Homo sapiens: one gene and its partners. The protein of the gene in region 4 purifies or fractionates together with the protein of the main gene of each other region. This does not show direct contact. Each region holds a gene or a part of one and is shown on either strand. Other genes may lie near its edges. The genes, in order: LRRTM2, RAB3B, EHD2, KCTD15, HERC6, PHGDH and GSTM2.

Region 1 (2,589 bases), on a different chromosome or scaffold from region 4:
TAAGCACCTGTGGGACCTCCCTCCTAGGAGTGGCATGGAAGGTGCTGCTGGGATGGACATCAACCAACCCCCAAGGTAGAGGCCAAGTCGCTGTTGGCTAGATACAGGCAATTGGTACCTTTCCGAAGCTCTCTGTGGTGTTAGTTCACTGTAATGGAGGATTCAGAGAGGGGCAGCCAACTCCATGCCCTGTGAGCCTGGGACAGTTGTTTGTCCACTTGCTCAGGCTCTTGACAGAGCAGCTTCTTACTGCATGACAGCTTTTTAGGCACTCTCCCTTCTCACCACTTTACCTTTACTTTCTTCTTATCCTAGTTTTACCTCTCTCTGAAGACAGGTAATGATTAGCTGCCCCTTTTTTCAGTGGACACATTTGACATTGTAGAGGAACATGGAATAAAACAACTGTTCATTTAAGATTTCTATGTCTGTCACAAATGGCTTTTCAAGTTTCACATGTCAAAATTGATAGGTTATCAAGGAAAAGTAAAAAGAAGGCATTCACTTTTTACAGTATACACAATTTTAATAACAAAACTTGCCTGTACACTGCTCTTTATGTTACCCTCCCCCCTCCCAAAACACCCTGCATAATAGTATTTTCTTCCCACCCTCAACCCATCTGCCCACCTCCCACCCAAAAAGAAAAATGGCTCTTGAAGGTGATTGAACACAATGTATTTGGACTGTACTTTGAGTTTCCAGTCTCAGTGTTGATAGGAAGGTTCACCAAACATTCCATATATCAGACTTAAAAAAAAAAAAAAAAACCGCTAAGGACAAAAATGTTAGTTGAAAGAGTTGCAGAGGTTTCCAAATGTTTGCAATAGCAGAATGAAAGCTTAAACAGTAATTTTCTATTTGTTTTTGGCCTTATTCAAGTACTATGAGTTTGCCCCAGGTTAGATAGAGAAATATTTAATTATCTATAGATGGCCTTACTGTCTCTCTCTCTTTTTTTTTTTTTTTCCTGGCTCAAGGGCTTTAGTCAATAAGATATGAAAAGTATGCCCCCAAACAGACTTTTCAGATAGGTCTGTCGCTGTATTCCTGTATTAGGAAAACGATCATGTAAGTCAGCTGTTAAAAATATTCTTTAACAAATTTTATATTGATATCCACACTTCAGAAAAAGAACAGGACATTTATAGCTTTTTCCCCTGATAGCTGTGTGTAGGAAGTGTGCCTTAAGAAAATGAAATGCCTGTTTTGAATTTTAGAATTCAAACCTAGTGCTACATAGGGCTCATTTTTATTGGAAAGATGGAGTCTAGCTCTTGGTGACTAGCATTAGAATAAGCAGATGGATTTTAATAATTAGTGGCGTTGGGAAGTTCAGTCAATTCCATTTATTGAATTGATACAGAAATTAACTTAGGCACATTAAGAAATTACATGTGTTAGTACAGATTTTTGGCTTAAAAAATTAGTATCTTTGCTTTTTGATGCTGGCAGTGGGTATTCTCAGAGTTGTGTGTGGATTTACAAGTTTATCAGCCCACTCTTTTCAGAAAGGTGATTGAAATCCCTGTCATGCTACAGAAATGAATATAAACGATTTCAAACTAGTTCTTGGTTTCTAGATGGGTATGGTATCATAGTCTTCTTTAGCTTTCCTTTTTCCAGAGAGATTAATTATTTTTCTGGTTCTTAATGGTCATTTTCCTCTAATCTTAAAAATAGAAAAAAAATGGAGTGGGTAGTGGTGGTGAAGAGGATAAAACCCCATCAAAAAACAAAAGCTCTGACACTGTGTAACCAAGATCCGCAGCGTTGCTGTGATGCTGTTCCGTTCTAGCCAGTTGGTAAAGAAAGCACAGATGACTAACAGTCTAATCTTCAAACCTGTGCTGATTCTGAAACACAAATGGACAAAAATGAAAGAAAATCTTGCCTTCTACAGGCAATTAAAAAGGGAGGTTTTTGCTTTTAAATGAGAAAGGAAAATACCTTTTTGGTACTACTGTCATTCACTTTTCTTAAAGGACATTACCCAGAAAAATGGAAGGCAAAAAATTTTGATTTTTTTCAACTGGAAAGTATGCCTCGCTAGCCTTGGCTATGCTGTTCCTCTGAATTAGTAAATGGCTGGCTTTTCCAATTTGCTTTTGTCCGTACACTAAGGATTTTGCCAGTTATGGTCCTTTAAGGATTAAGGTGGAGATTCCCAGCCAAAGAAGGGGATTTCTTACCCATCCCACAGTTTAAATCTTAATTTTGTTTGTGGTTTGAAATGATGGAAAATACTCCTCTGCTGTCCTTCAGGGCTGATGGAATCTTGTGTGCTCAGGACACAGTTGTGTTGTGACCAAGCTGTCTGTCACCTGACAAATGGCAATGGTCATCCTGATAAATGGGTTGGTAAATTTTAGCTCGTGGTGCTCTTATTTGTAATAGGGGCTTCTAATTCAGCCTGTCTGTGGGGAAGTAGGGCGCTGTGCTCTATGCTGTTAAATCAGCTTCTGTCTCTGCCCAGACAAGCCCAGGGTCTGGTTTAACAAGAGACAAAATACTCACCACTCGAGATCAACTGAATTGAACTGGGCTGAGACTTTGACAAACTAATCTGCCCACCTTAAAAAAGAGCAC
Region 2 (3,500 bases), on a different chromosome or scaffold from region 4:
TGTGCAATTCACAGCAAAGTAGTCAGGAATCGATCTCATGAAGCCCGCAAGGACCAAACACCCCCACCCTGATTTAGACCTGTAGGTGCTGCCCCACGACCCCCACCAAAGCCCATGTAAGGAGCTGAGTCCTTAAAGACTGAAGATGGACTATTTCCTGGAGAAAAATAAAATGGAAATTGTACTTTAAAAAAAAGCCATCTATTTTAATACTATGTTTTATTTGTTAATTTAAAAGGTAATACATACTTACGGAAAATAATTCAAGCATATCCTATTTGCAAGTATTACCTTTTTTACCAGCTGTAGCTCAATTATTATTATTTTTATTTTATTTTATTTTATTTTGAGACAGGGTCTCTCTCTGTCGCCCAGGCTGGAGTGCAATGGCACTATCTTGGCTCACTACAGTCTTGATCTCCTGGGCTCAAGCAATCCTCTTACCTCAGCCTCCCGAGTAGCTGGGACTACAGGCATGTGCCACCATGCTCAGCTAATTTTTGTACTTTTTGTAGAGATGGGGTTTCACCATGCTGTCCAGGCTGGTCTTAAACCGGGATCAAGTGATCTGCCCTCCGTGGCCTCCCAAAGTGCTAGAATTACAGGCGAGAGCCACCACACCCAGCTGCATTATTTTCTTAATTCCTAGCATAAAATACAAGTAATATGAAACCTAAAGGTTTACACTGAAAAGTAAGTCTTGCTTCCATCTCTGATTCCTGATCCAGTTCCCCTCCCCAGAGGCATACATGTTATCAATTTATATATCCTTCAGAGATAGCCCTTGCATATATAAGCAAAGAGACCTATTTATACTTTTTATTTCTATATAAATAACATACCATGCATTCTAGTCTATACCTTCTATGCATATTGTAATAGCTGACATCATATGTACAAGGTATAGGCTAGAATATATGGTATGTTATCATTTAGCAAATCACTTAAATTTTAAAAGTACAATCATGAACTGCATAACAACATTTCAGTCAATGACAGACCACATGTACAATGGCGGTCCCATAAGATTATAATGGAGCTGAAAAATTCCTATTGCCTAGTGACATAGTAGCCATGGTAACATTGTAGCACAACACATTACTCACATATTTGTGTTGATGCTGGTGTAAACAAACCTACTGCATTGCCAGTTGTATAAAAGTATAGCACATATGATTATGTGCTATACATAATACTTGATATTGATAATAAATGACTATGTTACTGGCTTCTGTATTTACTTACTACACTTTTTATTGTTATTTTAGAGTGTACTTTTTCTATTTATATTTAATATTTTTTAAAAAGTTAACAGTAAAACAGCCTCAGGCAGGTCCTTCAGGAGGTATTCCAGAAGAAGATATTGCCATAAGAGATGACAGCTCCATGCCTATTATTGCCCCTGAAGACCTTCCAGTGGGACAAGACATGGAAATGGAAGGCAGTGATATTGATGCTCCTGGACCCTGTGTAGGCCTAAGCTCAGGTGTGTGTATTTGTGTCTTCCTTTTTAACAAAATAATTTTAAACATAAATTTAAAAACTAAGGAAGAAAAGAAAGAAAAGGCCAGGTTCAGTGGCTCATACCTATAATCCCAACACTTTGGGAGGCCAAGGTGGGAGGATCGCTCAAGCCAAGGAGTTTGAGGCTGCAGTGACCCATGATTGCACCACTGCATTCCAATCCAGGTGACACACTGAGCCTTCATCTCAAAAAAGGCCATACGGTGTATTTGTGCTTTAAGTTAAGTGTTGTTATAAAAGAGTCTATGGCTGGGCATGGTGGCTCAGACCTGTAACCCCAGACTTTGGGAGGCCGAGGCAGGCAGATCACTTAAGGTCAGGAGTTCAAGACCAGCCTAGCCAACATGGTGAAACCTCATCTCTACTAAAAATACAAAAATTAGCCAGGCGTGGTGGTGCGCACCTGTAATCCCAGCTACTCAGGAGGCTGAGGCACAAGAATTGCTTGAACTCGGGAGGTGGAGGTTGCAGTGAGCAGAGATCCACTGCACTCCAGCCTGGGTGACAGAGCAAGACTCAATCTCAAAAAAATAATAATAATAATAATAAATAAAAAATAAAAGAGTCTAAGAAGTTTTAAAAATTTTTTAAGTTTATAAGGTTTAAAAGTTATAGTAAGCCAAAGTTAATTTATTATTGGAGAAACATATTTTTAAATAAATTTAGTGTAGCCTAAGTGTAGAGTGTTTATAAAGTCTCCTATAGTGTATGGTAATGTCCTAGGCCTTCACATTCACTCACCACTCACTCACTGACTCCCCCAGAGCAACTGCCGGCCCTGCAAGCTCCATTCATGGTTAAGTGTCTTATATAGGTGTACCATTTTTTATCTCTTATACCATATTATGCCTGGGTGCAGTGGCTCACACCTGTAATCCCAGCACTTTGGGAGGCCAAGGTGGGTGGATCACTTGAGGTCAGGAGATAGAGACCAGCCTGGCCAACATGATGAAACTCCATCCCTATTAAAATACAAAAAATTAGCCAGGCATGGTGGCAGATACCTGTAATCCCAGCTACTCGGGAGGCTGAGGTTGCAGTGAGCTGAGATTGCACCACTGCATTCCAGCTTGGGTGATAGAGCCAGACTTGGTCTCAAAAAAAAAAACCATCATATTTTTACTGTACCTTTTCTATGTTTAGATGTGTTTAGCTACACAAATACTTACCACTGTGTTACAATTGCCTGCTACATTCAATACAGTAACATGCTGTACAGGTTTGCAGCCTAGGAGCAATAGGCTATCTATTCCATATAGACTATGTGTATAGTAAGCTATACCATATACCATATAGGTTTGTGTAAGTATACTCTATGATGTTCATACAACTATGAAATCGGCTAATGACACATCCCTCAGAACATATCCTTGTCATTAGCAATGCAAGACTGTACTTAAATACTACAAAAATTTAGTAGTACCAAAAGTACTACAAAAATATGAGATTTTGAGGCCAGGTGCCGTGGCTCAGGCCCATAATCCCAGGACTTTGTGAGGCCGAGGCAGGCGGATCATTTGAGCTCAGGAGTTTAAGATCAGCCTGGCCAACATGGTGAAATCCAGTCTCTACTAAAAATATAAAAATTAGCCAGGTGTGGTGGCGCACACCTGTAATTCCAGCTAGTCAGGAGGCTGAAGCACAAAAATTGCTTGAACCCAGGAGGCGGAGGCTGCAGTGAGTCAAGATTGCACAACTACACTCCAGTCTGGGTGACAGAGCAAGACACTGTCTCAAAAAAAAAGAAAAGAAAGTAAGGGCTGGGCGCGGTGGCTCATGCCTGTAATCCCAGCACTTTGGGAGGCTGAGGCGGGTGAATCACGAGGTCAGGAGTTCGAGACCAGTCTGGCCAACATGGTGAAACCCCATCTCTACTAAAAATACAAAAAATTCGCTGGGCGTGGTGGTGGCTGCCTGTAATCCCAGCTACTCTGGAGGCTGAGGCAGGAGAATCACTTGAACCTGGCAGGCGGAGG
Region 3 (3,106 bases), about 14 Mb from region 4:
GATTCGCCCGCCTCAGCCTCCCAATGCTGGGATTACAGGCATGAGCCACCGCGCCCAGCCATTTTTGTTTTGTTTTGTTTTGTTTTTTTTTGACAGGGTCTCGCTCTGTCACTTAGGCTAGAGTGCAGTGGTGCCAACATAGCTCACTGCAGCTTCCAACTCCCAGCCTCAAACGATCCTCTGGCCTCAGTCTCCCAAGTAGCTGGGACCACAGGCACACACCACCCACCCAGCTAAATTTTTGTGATCCTCCCTCCTCAGCCCCCGCAATTCGCTGGGACTATAGGTGTGCGCCACTACGCCCAACTAGTTTTAAAAATTTTTTGTAGAGACCAAGTCTTGCTATGTTGCCCAGGCTGGTCTCGAACTCCTGAGCTCAAGCCATCCTCCCACCGCAACCTCCTAAAGTGCTGGGATTGCAGGTGTGAGCCACTGTACCCAGCCAGAGTGGCAGCTCTTTACTGACACATGCAGAAGTATTTGAACATCTGAACAACCTGTTCCGCTCGGGCACCCACCAATGAGAAGATACTTGGGCAACAAGGTCCCAGAGGCTTTCTCCTGTGCCCCAGAATTACTGGAGGGTGGGGAGGCTGGGGCCCCTCTGATGAGTGAGAGCAGCGGCCCTTTGCCAGCTAGCAGAGAAGGATTTCAATATTTTCGCATCAAGTATAGCTTTCTCAGAGCATCCACACCAGCCTAGAACCCTAACCGCCCTCTACCCAACTCCAGCTGCCCAGCCAGCACGTACAACATTAAAAGTTAAAAAAAAAAAAACTCAGCAGGCTTGGGTGGCTCACACTTGTAATCCCAGCACTTTGGGAGGCTGAGGTGGGAGAATCACTTGAGCCCAGGAGTGCAAGACCAGCCTGGACAACATGGCAAAACCCTATTTCTTTTCTTTTCTTTCCTTTTTTTTTTTTTTTTTTTGACGAGTTTCGCTCTGTCACCCAGGCTGGAGTGCAATGGCGCGATCTCAGCTCACCGCAACCTCCGTCTCATGGGTTCAAGCGATTCTCCTGGCTCAGACTCCCAAGTAGCTGGGATTACAGGCGCCTACCACCATGCCCAGCTGATTTTCATATTTTTAGTAGAGATGGGGTTTCGCCATGTTGGCCAGGCTGGTCTCGAACTCCTGACCTCAGGCAATCTGCCCACCTCGGCCTCCCAAAGTGCTGGGATTACAGGCATGAGCCACTGCACCTGGCCTCAAAACCCTATTTCTTAAAAAAAAAAAAAAAAAAAAAAAAAAATTAAAAATTAGCCAGGTGTGGTGGTGCACGCCTGCAGTCCCAACTACTTTGGGAGGCTGAGACAGAATCTCTTGAACCCCAGGAGACAGAGGTTGCAGTGAGCGAAGATAGCACCACACTGTACTCCAGCCTGGGTGACAGAGCAAGACCCTGTCTCAAAACAAAAAAGTGTGCAGGGGGGGAGAGAAAAAAGAAAGTTAAGAAAGCTTAATTCCTGTCACAGTGCTACCACACCACACAGAAAGGACTGAGTGGCTGGCTGCCAAATTTGGAGGTGAGATTTGAGATGATCAGATCATCAGGGGTTCCTGGGACCACCCCCTCCCCACCGAAGAAGTCACTTTGGGGTGTAGGGGTGGACTTGGCGTCACACTGCTTCTCACACGGGCTACTCTAAGTGGCCCAGACTGCACCAGGACAGTCTCTGCGAAAATGGATTCCTTTCACAGCCCTATGTGAATTTCCTGAGCCAAGGCAGAGAGGCCAGCTGATCACGACTCTGAAGGGTTGGGGATCCTAGGTTGCAACCTGGATTCCCTGGCAGCCAGAGTATGACTAAGTTCAAGTCCACTGAGGCAAGCACAGGTTGCATGTGCAGCTTCTACTGTTAGCCTGTCCAGTATGGCAGCCACTAGCCACATGTGCTTATTTACATTAATTAAAATGAAATACAGGCCGGGCGCAGTGGCTCATGCCTGCAATCCCAGCACTTTGGGAGGCTAAGGCAGGAGGATCACCTGAAGTCAGGAGTTTGAGACCAGCCTGGACAACATGGTGAAACCCCATCTCTACCAAAAATACAAAATTAGCTGGGCGTGGTGGCGGATGCCTGTAATCTCAGCTACTTGGGAGGCTGAGGCAGGATAATTGCTTGAACCCGGGAGGCAGAGGTTGTAGTGAGTCAAGATCTTGCCACTGCATTCCAACCTGGGCAACAGAGCAAGACTCCATCTCAAAAAAAAAGAAAAAAGAAATACACGTTAACATTCCATTTGAATGTGGCTAGTGGCTACCATACTGGACAGTGCAGAATGAAACATTTCCATCATTGTAGAACGTACTGCTGGACAGCTCTGTTCTAGAAAGTGTTCTTGGTCAGGCATGGTGGCTCCTGCCTATAATCCCAGCACTTTGGGAGGCCAAGGCAGGAGGATCACTTGAGGCCAGGAGTTCGAGACCAGCCTGGCCAACATGACAAAACCCCATCTCTACTAAAAGTATGAAAAATTATCTGTACGTGGTGGCACATGCCTGCAGGCCCAGCTACTTGGGAGGCTGAGGTGAGATAACTGCTTGAACCCAGGAGGCAGAGGTTGCAGTGAGCCAAGATCACGCCTCTGCAGTTCGGTCTGGGTGACAGAGTGAGACTCTGTCTCAAAAAAAAAAAAAAAAAAAAAAGCTAGCCAGGCATGGTGGCATGTGCCTGTAGTCCCAGCTACTCTAGAGGCTAGGCAGAAGGACCTTTGAGCCCAGGAGTTCAAGTACACAGTGAGCTATGATCACCCCATTGCACTCCAGCCTGGACAACAGAGTCTCTGAAAAATATATAAATAAATCTCTAAAAAATATATAAATAAATTTTTAAACGTATATATTTTATTTTATTTATTTATTTATTGAGACAGAATCTTACTCGGTCACACAGGCTGGATTGCAGTGGTGTGATCTCAGCTCACTGCAACCTCTGCCTCCCGGGTTCAAGGGATTCTCCTGCCTCGGCCTCCCCAGTAGCTGGGACTACAGGCACGCAACACCATGCCCAGCTAATTTTTGTATTTTTAGTACAGACGGGGTTTCACCATGTTGGCCAGGCTGGTCTCGAACTCCTGACCTCAGGTGATCCACCCGCCTTG
Region 4 (4,178 bases):
GGCGGTCGGGACCCAGGCGCCGTTCCGGCCCGTGCGCACCCGCCCCGCGGTCCCAGCCGGTCTCCGGCCCGGGCGTCCCTGGAGCCAGGCGGGGGCGCAGTGCCGGCCAGTCGCGCGCTCCGTTTCCTAGGAGCCGGGAAATGGTCGCCGAGGAGGAGGAGGAGGCACGGGCGGGGCGCAAAGGAAACAGGAGGAAGAGGAAGGGGAGGAGGAGTGGGAGTGGGAGAAAAGGAGGAAGGGGCGGCCGAAGCGGAGACTGGGGAGGGGCGTCCGGGGCGCGGACCTCGGCCGCGGGGAGTCTTGGCTGCCGCCGTCTCCATCGCGCCGCGCGCGTAAAGGAAATGGCGCGTCTAGCCGCGAGCGGTCGGCCCGGTGCCCCAGCGCGTCCCTCCCCCGCGGCGGCCGACCGCGTGTCCGCAGACGTCACGGGAGAGGGGCAGCGGGGCAGAGACCCTGGGAGGGCGGCCAGGGAGCGGGGGAGGGGCGGCCTGGCCCCCGGCTCCGCTCCAGCCCCGACCGACTGGCAGCCCAGTTTCTTCCCAAGTCCCGCCCCCAGCCCCGGGCGCCGCGGCGGCGGCTGCTCTCCTCTTTGTAACCGAGGAGTCAAGAAATGTGAGAAACGTGCCCTGTGTTACTTATTTGGGAGCCGAAAATTTATGCCCAGCTGAAAGCGCCCGGGGAAATATTACATCAGATGAAATGACAATGATTAAAATCAGCCTCTCCCCCGCCCCCTCCCCGAGCCCGGAGGAGGCCCGGGCGCCGCGTGGCCGGCCGGCGGGGGGCGGGGGGCTGGGCCGCGGAGGGCGCTGGGGCCTGGGCGCACCGCTCCCGGGAGGGTCCTGGCCGCGGCCCCGGCGGGAAGGCGCGGGCTTCGGGAGAGGCGGGTGGGGATCGCCCGGCGAAAGGAGGGGAAACGGCGCGTTTTTGTCGCCAGGCGCGGGCGCGCGGAGCTAATTGCGACTCTAATCCTCTGCCCCGCGGCGCAGCCGAGCCCCGAGCCAGGAGTCGCCGCGCGCGCCCGTTCGCGCTGGGTAATTTGGGGCCGGATCGCTGCCCTTTACGTCCGGGCTGGGCCGCGGCGAGGCGCTGGCTAGGGGCTGGAGTGGGGGGCTGGTTTTCTCTCCAGCAATCGAGGGAGGCCGCCGGAGAGAGAGGAGGGAGGAGAGGAGGTGGGAGCGGCGGGAGGGCAGCCGGAGAGCGGCGCGAGGAGGAGGCGGCGGCGGCGGAGGCGGCGGCCGCGAAGAGGGGAGGAGGCGAGGGGAGGGTGGGGAGGGGAGGCCCCGGCGCGCCGCGCCGCGAGGGGCCGCGTGAAGCGGGGGCCGGGGCGGGAGGGGTGGGTGGGGGGAGGGTTGGGGGCGAGAGAGAAAGTAACTCCAGGACGAGACCGGAGCGACCCGCGCAGCGAGCATAGGCGGCGAAGCTGCGCCCGGCGCCCGAGACCGGCAGCTGCGTGGGGCGGGGGCTGCGCCCGAGCCCGATCTGCCGGCTCCGAGGTAAGCTCAGCGCGGGCGGCCACCGCTCAGAGCCGCGCAACCCTGCCCCGAAGTGGCTGCGATACCGAGAAAGTCGCCCGGCCAGGGTCTGGACCTGGGCGGGGGCGGCCGCTTTGTCCCTCTGCTGGGCGGCGGGGGCTGGCGGCGCGGGGGTGCCCAGCACAAAGGCCTGGTGCAAGAGTGGGGTTGCCCACGTGGGCTGGTCCTGGCCGCGGGTGGACCCTCCCCACGCGGGCGGTCTCGGAGCTTCCTGCCGCGCGGTGTGTGTGTGTGTGTGTGTGTGTGTGTGTGTGTGTGCGCGCGCGCGCGCGCGCGCTTGTGGAGGTCCCCGCACTCTGGCCCCTGTTCTGGGCCGAGCGCCCTGCAGAGCTGGCGAGTTTCCGGGGTCAGAAACGGGCTCACGCAACTGGGGCTTCGGGATGCACAAGTCCCGGCTTGGCGCCCAAAATCAGAGAAAGTCTCCAGTGGGACAGATGTGCGTCCTCTGACGCCCACCCCACGAGTCCGAAACCTGGCAGGAGGGGCTGTCGCGCTGGTGGTGGTCCCGGGCGCGCAGGGTTTGGGGCTGGGAGAGGGGCCGCGATGGGAGGGATCGCCGCCTGCAGATCCGGTTCCCCGCTGCCCGCCCGCACCCCCTGACCTGGACGCGCGCACCCGGCACACACTCGCAAACACACCCGGGGGCGGACCCCCGCCTCTGCAGCGCCTTTCTGTCTTCCGGCGGCCCCCACCCGCGACTGCAGAAAGATAAGCTTCAAGTTTTCGCTCCGTATCTCAAATGTGCATGAAGGAATTTAACTGCACGAGTGAATAACAGCATTAGTTTCAATTAATTTTTTTTTAATCCCGGCAACAATAAACTTTGAGAACAAAAGCGCTTTTACGTCCTTAATTAGGCGAGCTTCCCATCTGTGGTCTCCAAGTGTCTGCCTCTTGATTTAACTTTGTCCCCGCCCCGCCTCCGCGGCAACCCCTCCCAGCCCAGCCCCGCGCTTCGGGTGCCGCGGCCACCCCGCCCCGCGGCGCCTCCAGCCTTGGCCCAAGCCCTCTCCCGTCGCCCCTAAGTTCACACCGGCCGGCTGGCTCCGCGGCGGAGGCGGGAGGGGGGGGGTGGGGAGGCTGGCGCGCACCAGGTGGCCCGCCTGCCTCTCCGGGGCCACCCCTGGGACAATTGTGCAGGCCCCCAGGACTTTCGCCCCGGGCCAGCGCCCTGAGTGCGGAGCCGAGGGGAGCTCGAGAGGCGCCTTCTGTTTACCTTTTATGGTTAAAATAACAGCTTAGCAAAGAAGCGACTTCAGAAGAAGCGATTTAGTGAAATCGTCTCAAGCTGCCGCAGCTCAGCCAGTTTAATCACCCCCAGAGAGCCGAACAACTGCGAGCGCAATGGGACACAAAATCATTTTGTGTGTAAATGAGCGTGGCATTCTGCTCACTTCTCTCTGCTCGGGCGGGCGGGGCTCGGCGGCGGGCGGGCAGGGACCCGGGTCTCCCGCCGCAGCTGGAGAAGCGGGTCACTACCGGGCCAGTTTGGAAACCTGTGGGCCCTCCCGACCGCTATCGCTGAGGCCCCTGCAACAGGCGGGCCAGGGCGCACTGGGGCTGGGTGCTGGGTTTGATGCTGGTGCTGGTGGAATGAACTTGTATCTCTCACTGCACCCACTTTTGTGCTTCTGACTTAAGCAGTGGTCTCGGAAAGAGGGTCGTGGTCCCGCACGGATGCGCTTGTTGGGAGAAACCTTGGAGATTCACGGCAAGGCGTAAAGCCTGGGGCTTCCAACGGTAAGTTTCTGGCTTGCCATGAACATCAGGTTGTTCTTGGGAGGGAAAAGGGGCTAAGAACAGAGTGGAGCGGCTTCTGTGATGGAGGCTTGGTGTTCACGTCACTTTGGAATAGTGTCCTGGTATTGGGGAAAACATCTTGCAGTCCGCTTTGATAGAATTTCAGCCAGAATTCCTTCCTGTTCAGTTTATCCTCAGCGCGTCTTCCCTTCTGACTCCTCCCCCAGCAGAGCCTCCTAGGGCAGGATAATCCATTCCTGAGGTCTGTTTTGGTTCTCAGAACTCCTTGAGCTAAGTGACCTGGTTTTGTTTTTTTAAGCTTGTAGAACTCAGGAATGCCAAAAGCAGTGGATTCTGAGTCCACAGGCCCCAGTGAGGGTATATATTAAACATCACTGTCTGCCCATTGCAACCTCCCACCCCAGTTTTATGTCAGGAAACTTGCCCGGGCACTCAGGGAGAGCAACCTTGCTTACATTTGCAGGATTTGATTCTGGTTGGATTAAAATTGGATATTGAATTTCAAGGCACAAATTTTGATCCCAGAGTTTTAATGGGAAAAAGCAATCCCATGGGTCCCAAGAATTTCAAGTGGTTTCTCTCTTAAAGGTTAAACCTTCGAGAGACGTCCAGGGTAGGTTTGTGGAAGCCAGTGTCTGTGGATGTGTGAAGGGGGGTGACTATTCACGTGCAAATCTCCTCTTTCCTCCCTTTTGAGACAGCTGTAAATCAGTGAACGGGGCTGCAGAATTCTGCCCCTCCTGCATAGGGCCTGCAAAGCGCCCCTGGGTGTGGCTTCCAGGGACTGAGGGACAATCTTATTTCAGGTGACTACGGCACAGAGGAGAGTTACTGAGTGCCTCTGGGGAGGAGCAGTAGAAAGGGTCCATTGGCTGATCTGCT
Region 5 (2,873 bases), on a different chromosome or scaffold from region 4:
AAATGTATTTTTAAATATGGTTCACACCTGTAATCCCAGCAATTTGGGAGGCTGAGGTGGGTGGATCACTTGAGGTCAGGAGTTCAAGGCCAACCTGGCCAACATGGCGAAACCCCGTCTCTACTACAAAAATTAGCCAGGTGTGGTGGCACATGCCTGTAGTCTCAGCTACTAAGGAGGCTGAGGATTGCTTGAACCCAGGAAGTGGAGGTTGCAGTGAGCCGGGATTGCGCAACTGCACTCAAGCCTGGGCAACAGAGTGAGACTGTGTCTCAAAAAAAAAAAAAAAAAAAAAAAGCATTTTAGCTTCTCAGGTGATTGTTTTAGCTCCTAATCTTTTAGAAAAAAGAAGCTTTTAAGATAAAAGAAAAGGAGAAAGAATTCAGGGTTCAATATTTCCTTTGTAGCTCTTTTTACTATTTATTCATTTAGCAAATATTTTTGAGCCCCTATTCTGTACCAGACTCTATTCTAGGTGCTGGAGATACAGTAGTCAAAAAGACAGACAAAATTTGGAGCTTAAATTCCAGTGGGGCAGAAAGACAATACACAAATGAATCATTATTATTTTTAATAGAGATGGAGTCTTGCCATGCTGCCCAGGCTGGTCTCGAATTCCTGAGCTCAGGCAGTCCTCACACCTCAGCCTCCCAAAGTACTGGGATTACAAGGGTGAGCCACCGCACCTGGCCACAAATGAATTATTATGTAATATAATGTCAGATAAGGATGAGCACTCTGAAGAAAATTAAAACTGATTAAGAAACTAGGGAGTTCCAGGTGGTGGTATGCTGGAGCTCACTAGTACCAGCTTGTGAGAGCTGATTGTTAAATTTTCAAAAATGTTAAGAGTTTATTATCAAAGTATTAGTAGCTGAAAATCAGCCACAGTGGGAATATTAACACCACAGAAATTCGCCAATGCTGCAAATGTGTGTCCCCTCCCCTCCCACTCCTTTTCAGAGAGCTGGTTGTTAGATATTTACCAGCACACCAATGGTTACAGGGGAAGGCAGACAAGAGTTGATTTAGATAGGCTAGTCCACAAAGGCTGCCCAAAGTGTGGGAGACAATCATGTCTCTGATGGAAATGCCTCCAGTAGCAACCCTGCCATCAGGAAATTAATCATTTAGTAGAAATTACATCCTGTAGTATAAGACAGACCTTGCAGGAATAATTTTCACAAAGTGACATGTGTTGTGAGAGGGGACAAGCAAAGGAACAAAAGGATCAACCCTGAGAAAGTCTTACTTATATTGAAATCTAATGGATGGTAGAAGTTATCAGGTAAAGAAGAAATGCTGCATTCTGTGGCCTAACTACAAAAGAGAGACAAGACCTATGAACGGGGCCAGAAGTGAAAATGGAAGTGGGAGCTGGGCACCATGGTGCATACTTGCAGTCTCACCTACTCAGGAGGCTGTGGCGGGAGGTTCGCTTGAGGCCAGGAGTCCAAGTCCAGCCTGGGCAACACAGGGAGACCCCATCTCTTAAAAAAAAGAAAGAAAAAGAAAGGAAAGAGAAAGAAAGAAGAAAGAAAGAAAAGGGAAGGGAAAGGGAAAGGGAAGGGAAGGGAAAGGAAAGAAAGAAAGAAAGAAAATGGAAGTGGGAAGAGGCCCCTTGCTGAGACTGGCAAGGTCAGATAATTGAGGGAGGAGCTAGGCTTGGGAAGGCCTGTTGATCCCTGCTAAGGAGGTTTGGAATTTACCCCAAGGGCAATGGGAAGCCTTTGAAAGACTTTAAGCAAGAGAATGACATATTCAGATTCATGTTTTAAAAAAATCCTCCTGACTGCAGTGAGGAAAGTGAGCCAAATAGTTTTAAACCTTCTGATTATATTTTCTAAATTTCTTTCTTCTAGCTGACCAGGTTTTGGTCACAATACAACATTCTTGTGCTATATAGAAGTAATTTACTTTTCCTTCTCAATAGAAATAGTAAAAAGAACAAAGTATAAAATCTTTTAATCATTGGCCTTTTCCTTCCTTTCTTTTTTTTTTTTTTTTTTTGCTTCCCTCAAGGAGAGACTATGTTTCTAAGTATATTGATTACATTTTCAACGTCTCTGTAAAAGCAGTTTATGAGGAATTTCAGAGAGGATTTTATAGAGTCTGTGAGAAGGAGATACTTAGACATTTCTACCCTGAAGAACTAATGACAGCAATCATTGGAAATACTGATTATGACTGGAAACAGTTTGAACAGGTAGGTGATACCTAAAGTGCCCCAATTTTTCCGAACAACTTCTATATATTCCACCCCACTCAAATCATTTTTCTCCCTCTTTCTCTCAAGAATTCAAAGTATGAGCAAGGATACCAAAAATCACATCCTACTATACAGTTGTTTTGGAAGGCTTTCCACAAACTAACCTTGGATGAAAAGAAAAAATTCCTCTGTAAGTACTGTGGTACTAGATGGACACATAATTATGTATCTTTTAAAAAGGTACAGTCTTGTTTAGAATGAAGCCATTGAAGTGGCCTCATTGTCTGGGGTGACACCCAAGGTTCTTTGTCTCACAGCCATGGAGATCAAGGACATGGACACACACAAAGGGTGAGGTATAGAGCAGAAACTTAATAGGCGAAAAGAGAATAGCTCTCTGCTACAGAGAGGGGTCCCAGAAAAATGAGTTGCTGATCTGTGGTGAAATGCAGGGTTTTTTATAGATGAGCTAGTGAGGAGGTGGTGTCTGATCTACATAGGGCATGAAAAACGAGTTAGGACCAGGTGTACCATCCGCATAGGGCACGAATCTCTGGCAGCCCCTACCCCAATCTTTGATTATACAGGTGGGTAGCTACTCCATGGTGCTTCTTTCTTACTGTGCATGTGCTAAAAAAGGGGGGAGGTGGAACCCCCATGGTGG
Region 6 (3,500 bases), on a different chromosome or scaffold from region 4:
AGAAGCCTGCAGACCTGTCACCTCCCACACTGGAGAGGCTCCCGTGAAGCCCGGCCTCAGCAGTCATTTCCCATACCATGATTCTTTCTCTGTTTAAAAAAAAAAAAATTCTTCCAATGATATCTTTATGAAAACAGAAAGAGAAGCATCTGTGTTTCCTTCTAATTACATCTTGTAGCTGCCTGTTTGATTTGCATCTTTCTAAGATGGTTGACTTTACAAGTTATCTCAATAAAAGTGGCCAGATGCCTAACTCAGAACCAGAGCATTTTGAACCACAAAATGGAATTGAAATTTTGGCCCAGAACAAGCTGGTTCTGTTATCAGGCCCCTGGGTGGGGCAGGGGGCAGCCAGCCAGGTCCTAGACATAACTTTTGGGGGATATGGGGCTTGTGTCCCCTCAGTGTCACAACATGCCTCACAGTGGACTTCGCATGCGTTGATATTTGAAGCACGATCATCAAAACTTTGTGATAATTGATCGTAGTGTTTAGTAACAATGTAAACACTTAAAAAAATTCAAGATAGAAAATAAAAATGAAGGCAAGTTGGGACTGCCAGAGAAGACCCGTCACTCCTCATCCAAGTTATCTGCGACTCCCATATGTTTTGTGTCAAAGACTCACCTTTATTGTGCTGTCCAATCCCTTCCCCAGTGCAGAAACAAGTCTCCCATGGAGGGGGCTGGGGCAGACACAGTTTGCTGAAAGGAGCAATTTTGAGTGGTTGTGGCATTCTGTGTCCATTTCTGGCTCCACAGCTTTCTTCATTTGTAGGAACAAGTCCTTGTCCTGTTGTTAGTGGCTGATGGAAGTTGTCACCCACCAGGCACCAAGGCAGGAGTGACCCTATACTGTCTTTCTTGTGGAGCTGGGTCTTGGCAGCCAGATCTTGATTCAGGATCTGCCATGCCTCTTCCTGACCACAGCCCCGCTCCTCCATCCTCTGCAGGTGAATGCCCAGGCCCTTACCAGTGCCTTCTCTCCACACACCAAGCCTTGGATTGGTCTGGCAGAAGCTCTGGGGACACTGATGCGAGCCTGGGCTGGGTCCCCCAAAGGGACCATCCAGGTGATAACACAGGGTGAGCTGGGGACCTTGCAGAGGGAGGGGGAGGAGGGGATGAGGGAGTGTGGGATCTGCCCTGCTGGGTGTATTTGCTGCAGGACACAGGGTTAGTGAGAGGCAGTGAGGGTGCCTTGGACCCTGCCCTGAGTATAGCTCCCTTACTACTGGTGGGAGGGTGGTAAAGGGAGGGGTTAAAAAAAGTCGTTGGAAAGATGTACTGAATATTCATAAATCATGTTTATGTAGCATTTTTAAGACCTAGATATTTTGGGTGCAAGAGAAACCTCTACGAGAGAGAGAGTTTCATGCGAGAGGTCGTAGGATGGCTGGAGGGAGGCCCTAATTAAGCAACAGGATGCTGGATTCTGGTTTTTGGCCCTGTCTCTTCCCTGCTGTGTGACTCTCCCTTCTGAGGCTTGGATTCTTCACTTGTAAAGTGAGAGTTAGGGGCAGATGAGCCAGGAGCGGTGAGGACACTTTGTGCTCTGTAACTTACTAAGGTGGTACCTTGGGCCGTCTGACAGCCCTCGAGAGAGAGTTTGCTCAGCCGTGGAGTGGGAATGAGAACAGTGCCCTCTGACCACCCCTCGGGCTGCTGAGTGGGCTGTGGCCACCTTTGCAGTGGATCCAGTACTGTGCGGATGTGGTTGAGTGACCAAGGAGGGCTCCAGTTTCCTTAACCCTGTAGACGTGTATCTTTCCCCATGGACTCTTGGGTGTCTCACAGTTGGGCAGAGATTGCAGGGAGAGGGCAGCTAAACCCTAGGCATTGACAATACCAGGGAAGGGCAGAGCCAGGGGGTCCCACTGGCCTGGGTGTCCAAGCGCCGAAGGAAACAAGGCAGGGAGCTGGGCAGCAGTTGCTTCGGTTACTTCTTTCTGCTTTGATTTCCTGAGGCTGGCAAGGCTCTGAGTGCCAGGAAGGGGTAAGAGTAGGGAATTTTCCTGTGTCCCCTGGGAGAATAATAGGTAGGCCAGGATGGCCAAGCCAGGTGCAGGGTTGGGGAGCGGAGTGGAGTTGAGCTGAGTTTTGGAGAGGAGTTTCTCAGGGTGGTTAAAACATCCTGGGTTTCCTGGCTTGGGCCCAGATTATGCCTCTTCTGAGCCCACTGAAGGGCGAGTGGACCTGCCTGGAGCAAGCTGCCTTTGGGGTCCCCAGGGCAGCGAGGAGCCCATAGTCCAGAGCTAGGTGCCAGTGGCTTCCTGCCCCCTCCTGTAGTGCTCAACAAACAGTGACCTCATGGTAGCTTCTCTCTGTCCCCAGGAACATCCCTGAAGAATGCTGGGAACTGCCTAAGCCCCGCAGTCATTGTCGGCCTCCTGAAAGAGGCTTCCAAGCAGGCGGATGTGAACTTGGTGAACGCTAAGCTGCTGGTGAAAGAGGCTGGCCTCAATGTGCGCCCCTCTCCCCCACGCTGCCTCCCCATCCCTGTCAGCACTAGTCTTCTCCCCCACATTTCCAGAGCCCGTTCTCTGAGCGGAGGCCTAGGTCCCAGCCTTGCATCGGCCTGTCTACCTGTGAGGGGTAGCTGCAGTTTCTTCAACTGCAAAATGAAGATACTGCCTGGCCCCGAGTGTTGCTAATGGCACTGCTTTGTGTATGAGTGCTGTGGGAATGGAGGCAGTAGAAGTGTCCCCATTTCACAGCCAAAGAAAATGACGAGCTAGTGTGTTTGACTCTGCCCGACATGGCTGCCAGGCCATGTTTGACTCTGCCTAACTCCCCTCAGGGCTCCTCATGCCGTAGCACCCGGGTTCTTGATTCACTTGCAAGCTCTAGGAGCCCTGCTGCCTTGCACGGCTTCCCGTTGGCGCCTTCCCCTCTGGTTCCCTGTTTAGATCAAAGTCTGTTTCAAAGCCTGTTGCTCAGCCAGTGGGAGCTGGCAGAAGGGATAGGCAGTAGAGCTGCCATGTCCTCACCCCTCTGCTCCCCTCCACTCCTGCATGCCAGTCATGCCACTGATGCCGTGCAGGAGGCTGTGTCAGAGCAGGAGGGGCCAGAGTGGAGTCTCCTCACAGCCCTGCCTCCCTGCTTTTCTTTCCTCCCTGTTTTCCTCCAAGCCTTCGCCTGTGCCTGGCAGATCTCTTTGCCCTCCCTTTAAGGAGATCATTGGCTGTTCCAGGAAGCTGATGCCGAAGGGCACACAGCTTGGCCCATTTGCCCTCTCCCTTCTGGTCCTGAATTACTGAGCACATTATCCAGGCTGGAGCCCTACATCCTACCAATGGGTGATTTGGCCAAGAGAGGAGGGTGGACGTGGTGCAGCCAGGAGGTGTAACAGTCACCTTGCCTTCTCCACACAGGTCACCACCTCCCACAGCCCTGCTGCACCAGGGGAGCAAGGCTTCGGGGAATGCCTCCTGGCCGTGGCCCTGGCAGGCGCCCCTTACCAGGCTGTGGGCTTGGTCCAAGGCACTACGCCTGTACTGC
Region 7 (2,365 bases), on a different chromosome or scaffold from region 4:
TTGAGGCATTTGTCCAACAGGCTTCTGAGCCTTGAATCTGTTTCCCTTTTCCACTCCCCATCAAGAGATCTGCTTGCTCAGCTAGTTCCCATCAGCTCTGGTTCTGCGGTTCTGGTCCAGGCTGAGTGGCCTTGGAGTTAGGTAAGAGGTGGTGGGAAGGGAGGGATGGAGGAGAGCTGAGAGCTATGGCCCGTTATGTGCCAGGGTCAAGCCTGTCACCCAGGCTGGAGTGCATTGGTGCGATCTTGGCTCACTGCAACCTCCGCTTCCTGGGTTCAAGCAATTCTCTGCCTCAGCCTACCAAGTAGCTGGGATTACAGGTGCCCGCCACCATGACCAGCTAATTTTTGTATTTTTAGTAGAGATGGGTTTTCACCATGTTGGCCAGGCTGGTCTCCAACTCTTGACCTCAGGTGATCCACTCGTCTCGGCCTTCCAAAGTGCTGGGATTACAGGTGTGAGCCGGATGTTTTTGAATACCTTATCTGGGCATTCAATCCTGGTAAGATTGTGCACAGCACATCTGAGTGTCATGTAGCCTGATCTGCAGCAGGGCTGGAGATGCCATGGGTTAGGGCACAGTGAGATTTTGCTAAGATACCAGATGGAGAACCTTGGACTTTCTGCTTTAAGGGGAATGATTAGAGCCTAGTCTCGCCTTTGATTTTCTTGTGCACTGCCACTCCCCATTCCACTTTCATCCAGGTTTTACTGAGACATTGGGTGAGTGTGTTCAGAGCCCCTTTGTTCTGCTGGAGGTCCCTTCTGTGTCTCTATACCCAGACAAGCCAAGAGCCTCCCTGTGGAAAAGGAGACTGTTTGTGCAGTCAAGGAGTGACAGGGCCTGGTGTGAGGGGTGGTGGGGCAGAAGAAGAAGAGAATTTGGCAGAAAGAGGCCAGAACTGGAGAGAGACAGAACCAGGCTACATTGAAGTTCTATTCCCCTTACTAGGTATTTAAATGTAAGGAAGTTGCTGAACTTCTGTTTCCCACATGACAAATGGTGATAATAGATTCAGCCTTGCAGAGTAGTCGAGTGGGTTTTCTAAGCTTACGTTGTAATTTCTCTTGGGTACAGAGCACCCAGCACCGTGTAGAATCTTCATAAGTGTTAGCTGTTACTGTGGTACAACATTACTTAAAGGAAGTTGGAAGAGTTAACTCCGCAGATCTGGGGACCCTAAGAAGCTGTGTGATGCCTCAGCACTTGAGCCCACATGGAAAGGCTGTGGCCAGGGCCCTGACCTGCTGTGTCTGCAGTGGGGTTGTGCCAGCCCTCATGGGCAGCTGACCTTGAGTTCTGGCCTTATTTTCCCCCCTCTCAGGGCTTGGAGAAGATCTCTGCCTACATGAAGTCCAGCCGCTTCCTCCCAAGACCTGTGTTCACAAAGATGGCTGTCTGGGGCAACAAGTAGGGCCTTGAAGGCCAGGAGGTGGGAGTGAGGAGCCCATACTCAGCCTGCTGCCCAGGCTGTGCAGCGCAGCTGGACTCTGCATCCCAGCACCTGCCTCCTCGTTCCTTTCTCCTGTTTATTCCCATCTTTACTCCCAAGACTTCATTGTCCCTCTTCACTCCCCCTAAACCCCTGTCCCATGCAGGCCCTTTGAAGCCTCAGCTACCCACTATCCTTCGTGAACATCCCCTCCCATCATTACCCTTCCCTGCACTAAAGCCAGCCTGACCTTCCTTCCTGTTAGTGGTTGTGTCTGCTTTAAAGGGCCTGCCTGGCCCCTCGCCTGTGGAGCTCAGCCCCGAGCTGTCCCCGTGTTGCATGAAGGAGCAGCATTGACTGGTTTACAGGCCCTGCTCCTGCAGCATGGTCCCTGCCTTAGGCCTACCTGATGGAAGTAAAGCCTCAACCACATTTGCTGTGTGTCTTGTCTTATTTGCTCCTGGCCATCTACCCAGACTGTCTGTCTGTCTGTCACTGCCTCTTCCAAGGGACTGGCTGGTGATCCTGGCAGTGGCTGGGTTCTAAAGGATTCTGCTGGGCATAGTAAGGCGCTTGAGAATTCTTGCTCCCATTCCTGAGAGACTCAGAGCAGGAAGCCCCATGAGGCACTGTGGAAAGGATGTCTCTTTCTTGGCCTGGATCTCCCATTCATTCATCCAGCCGTATTGAGTACTTTCCATAATTGCACAGAGCTTGTGTCTCATTGAATAGGACCCCAAGGGGGTGGAATCTCCATCAGAGAGAACCAGGGTCCCTTTTACCTTCTCCACTATATGACTGCATCACTTCTGTTAGGTCTCCAGGACCCAATCTCTATTGTTTTTCTCAGATGGCTTCCAGGTACCCTCTCCAGGCTTGCTGCACAGCTGTCATCAGGACGTTCTCTCTGGGTTTACTTCCTCTCTTTCCTG

The links.
Region 1: the proteins of KCTD15 (region 4) and LRRTM2 purify together in Homo sapiens (affinity purification with mass spectrometry, with the first as the bait; one large-scale study listed by BioGRID). This does not show direct contact.
Region 2: the proteins of KCTD15 (region 4) and RAB3B purify together in Homo sapiens (affinity purification with mass spectrometry, with the first as the bait; one large-scale study listed by BioGRID). This does not show direct contact.
Region 3: the proteins of KCTD15 (region 4) and EHD2 purify together in Homo sapiens (affinity purification with mass spectrometry, with the first as the bait; one large-scale study listed by BioGRID). This does not show direct contact.
Region 5: the proteins of KCTD15 (region 4) and HERC6 purify together in Homo sapiens (affinity purification with mass spectrometry, with the first as the bait; one large-scale study listed by BioGRID). This does not show direct contact.
Region 6: the proteins of KCTD15 (region 4) and PHGDH purify together in Homo sapiens (affinity purification with mass spectrometry, with the first as the bait; one large-scale study listed by BioGRID). This does not show direct contact.
Region 7: the proteins of KCTD15 (region 4) and GSTM2 purify together in Homo sapiens (affinity purification with mass spectrometry, with the first as the bait; one large-scale study listed by BioGRID). This does not show direct contact.

The regions. Positions count from the first base shown.
Region 1 is NC_000005.10:138,868,421-138,871,009, forward strand, and holds the end of LRRTM2 (leucine-rich repeat transmembrane neuronal protein 2 precursor), read right to left. Parts: 3' UTR 501-2,589; downstream 1-500. UniProt on the Homo sapiens protein: Involved in the development and maintenance of excitatory synapses in the vertebrate nervous system. Regulates surface expression of AMPA receptors and instructs the development of functional glutamate release sites.
Region 2 is NC_000001.11:51,980,701-51,984,200, forward strand, and holds part of RAB3B (ras-related protein Rab-3B), read right to left. Parts: intron 188-3,500; exon of another isoform or gene 1-187. UniProt on the Homo sapiens protein: The small GTPases Rab are key regulators of intracellular membrane trafficking, from the formation of transport vesicles to their fusion with membranes.
Region 3 is NC_000019.10:47,737,422-47,740,527, reverse strand, and holds part of EHD2 (EH domain-containing protein 2), read right to left. Parts: intron 1-3,106. UniProt on the Homo sapiens protein: ATP- and membrane-binding protein that controls membrane reorganization/tubulation upon ATP hydrolysis. Plays a role in membrane trafficking between the plasma membrane and endosomes. Important for the internalization of GLUT4.
Region 4 is NC_000019.10:33,795,492-33,799,669, forward strand, and holds the start of KCTD15 (BTB/POZ domain-containing protein KCTD15), read left to right. Parts: upstream 1-1,378; 5' UTR 1,379-1,496; intron 1,497-1,625; exon of another isoform or gene 1,626-2,903; intron 2,904-3,176; 5' UTR 3,177-3,179; coding exon of another isoform or gene 3,180-3,275; intron 3,276-4,102; coding exon of another isoform or gene 4,103-4,131; exon of another isoform or gene 4,132-4,178. UniProt on the Homo sapiens protein: During embryonic development, it is involved in neural crest formation. Inhibits AP2 transcriptional activity by interaction with its activation domain.
Region 5 is NC_000004.12:88,437,852-88,440,724, forward strand, and holds part of HERC6 (probable E3 ubiquitin-protein ligase HERC6), read left to right. Parts: intron 1-2,022; coding exon 2,023-2,206; intron 2,207-2,296; coding exon 2,297-2,399; intron 2,400-2,873. UniProt on the Homo sapiens protein: E3 ubiquitin-protein ligase which accepts ubiquitin from an E2 ubiquitin-conjugating enzyme in the form of a thioester and then directly transfers the ubiquitin to targeted substrates.
Region 6 is NC_000001.11:119,739,434-119,742,933, forward strand, and holds part of PHGDH (D-3-phosphoglycerate dehydrogenase), read left to right. Parts: intron 1-952; coding exon 953-1,085; intron 1,086-2,333; coding exon 2,334-2,464; intron 2,465-3,373; coding exon 3,374-3,500. UniProt on the Homo sapiens protein: Catalyzes the reversible oxidation of 3-phospho-D-glycerate to 3-phosphonooxypyruvate, the first step of the phosphorylated L-serine biosynthesis pathway.
Region 7 is NC_000001.11:109,673,422-109,675,786, forward strand, and holds the end of GSTM2 (glutathione S-transferase Mu 2), read left to right. Parts: intron 1-1,325; coding exon 1,326-1,415; 3' UTR 1,416-1,865; downstream 1,866-2,365. UniProt on the Homo sapiens protein: Conjugation of reduced glutathione to a wide number of exogenous and endogenous hydrophobic electrophiles. Participates in the formation of novel hepoxilin regioisomers.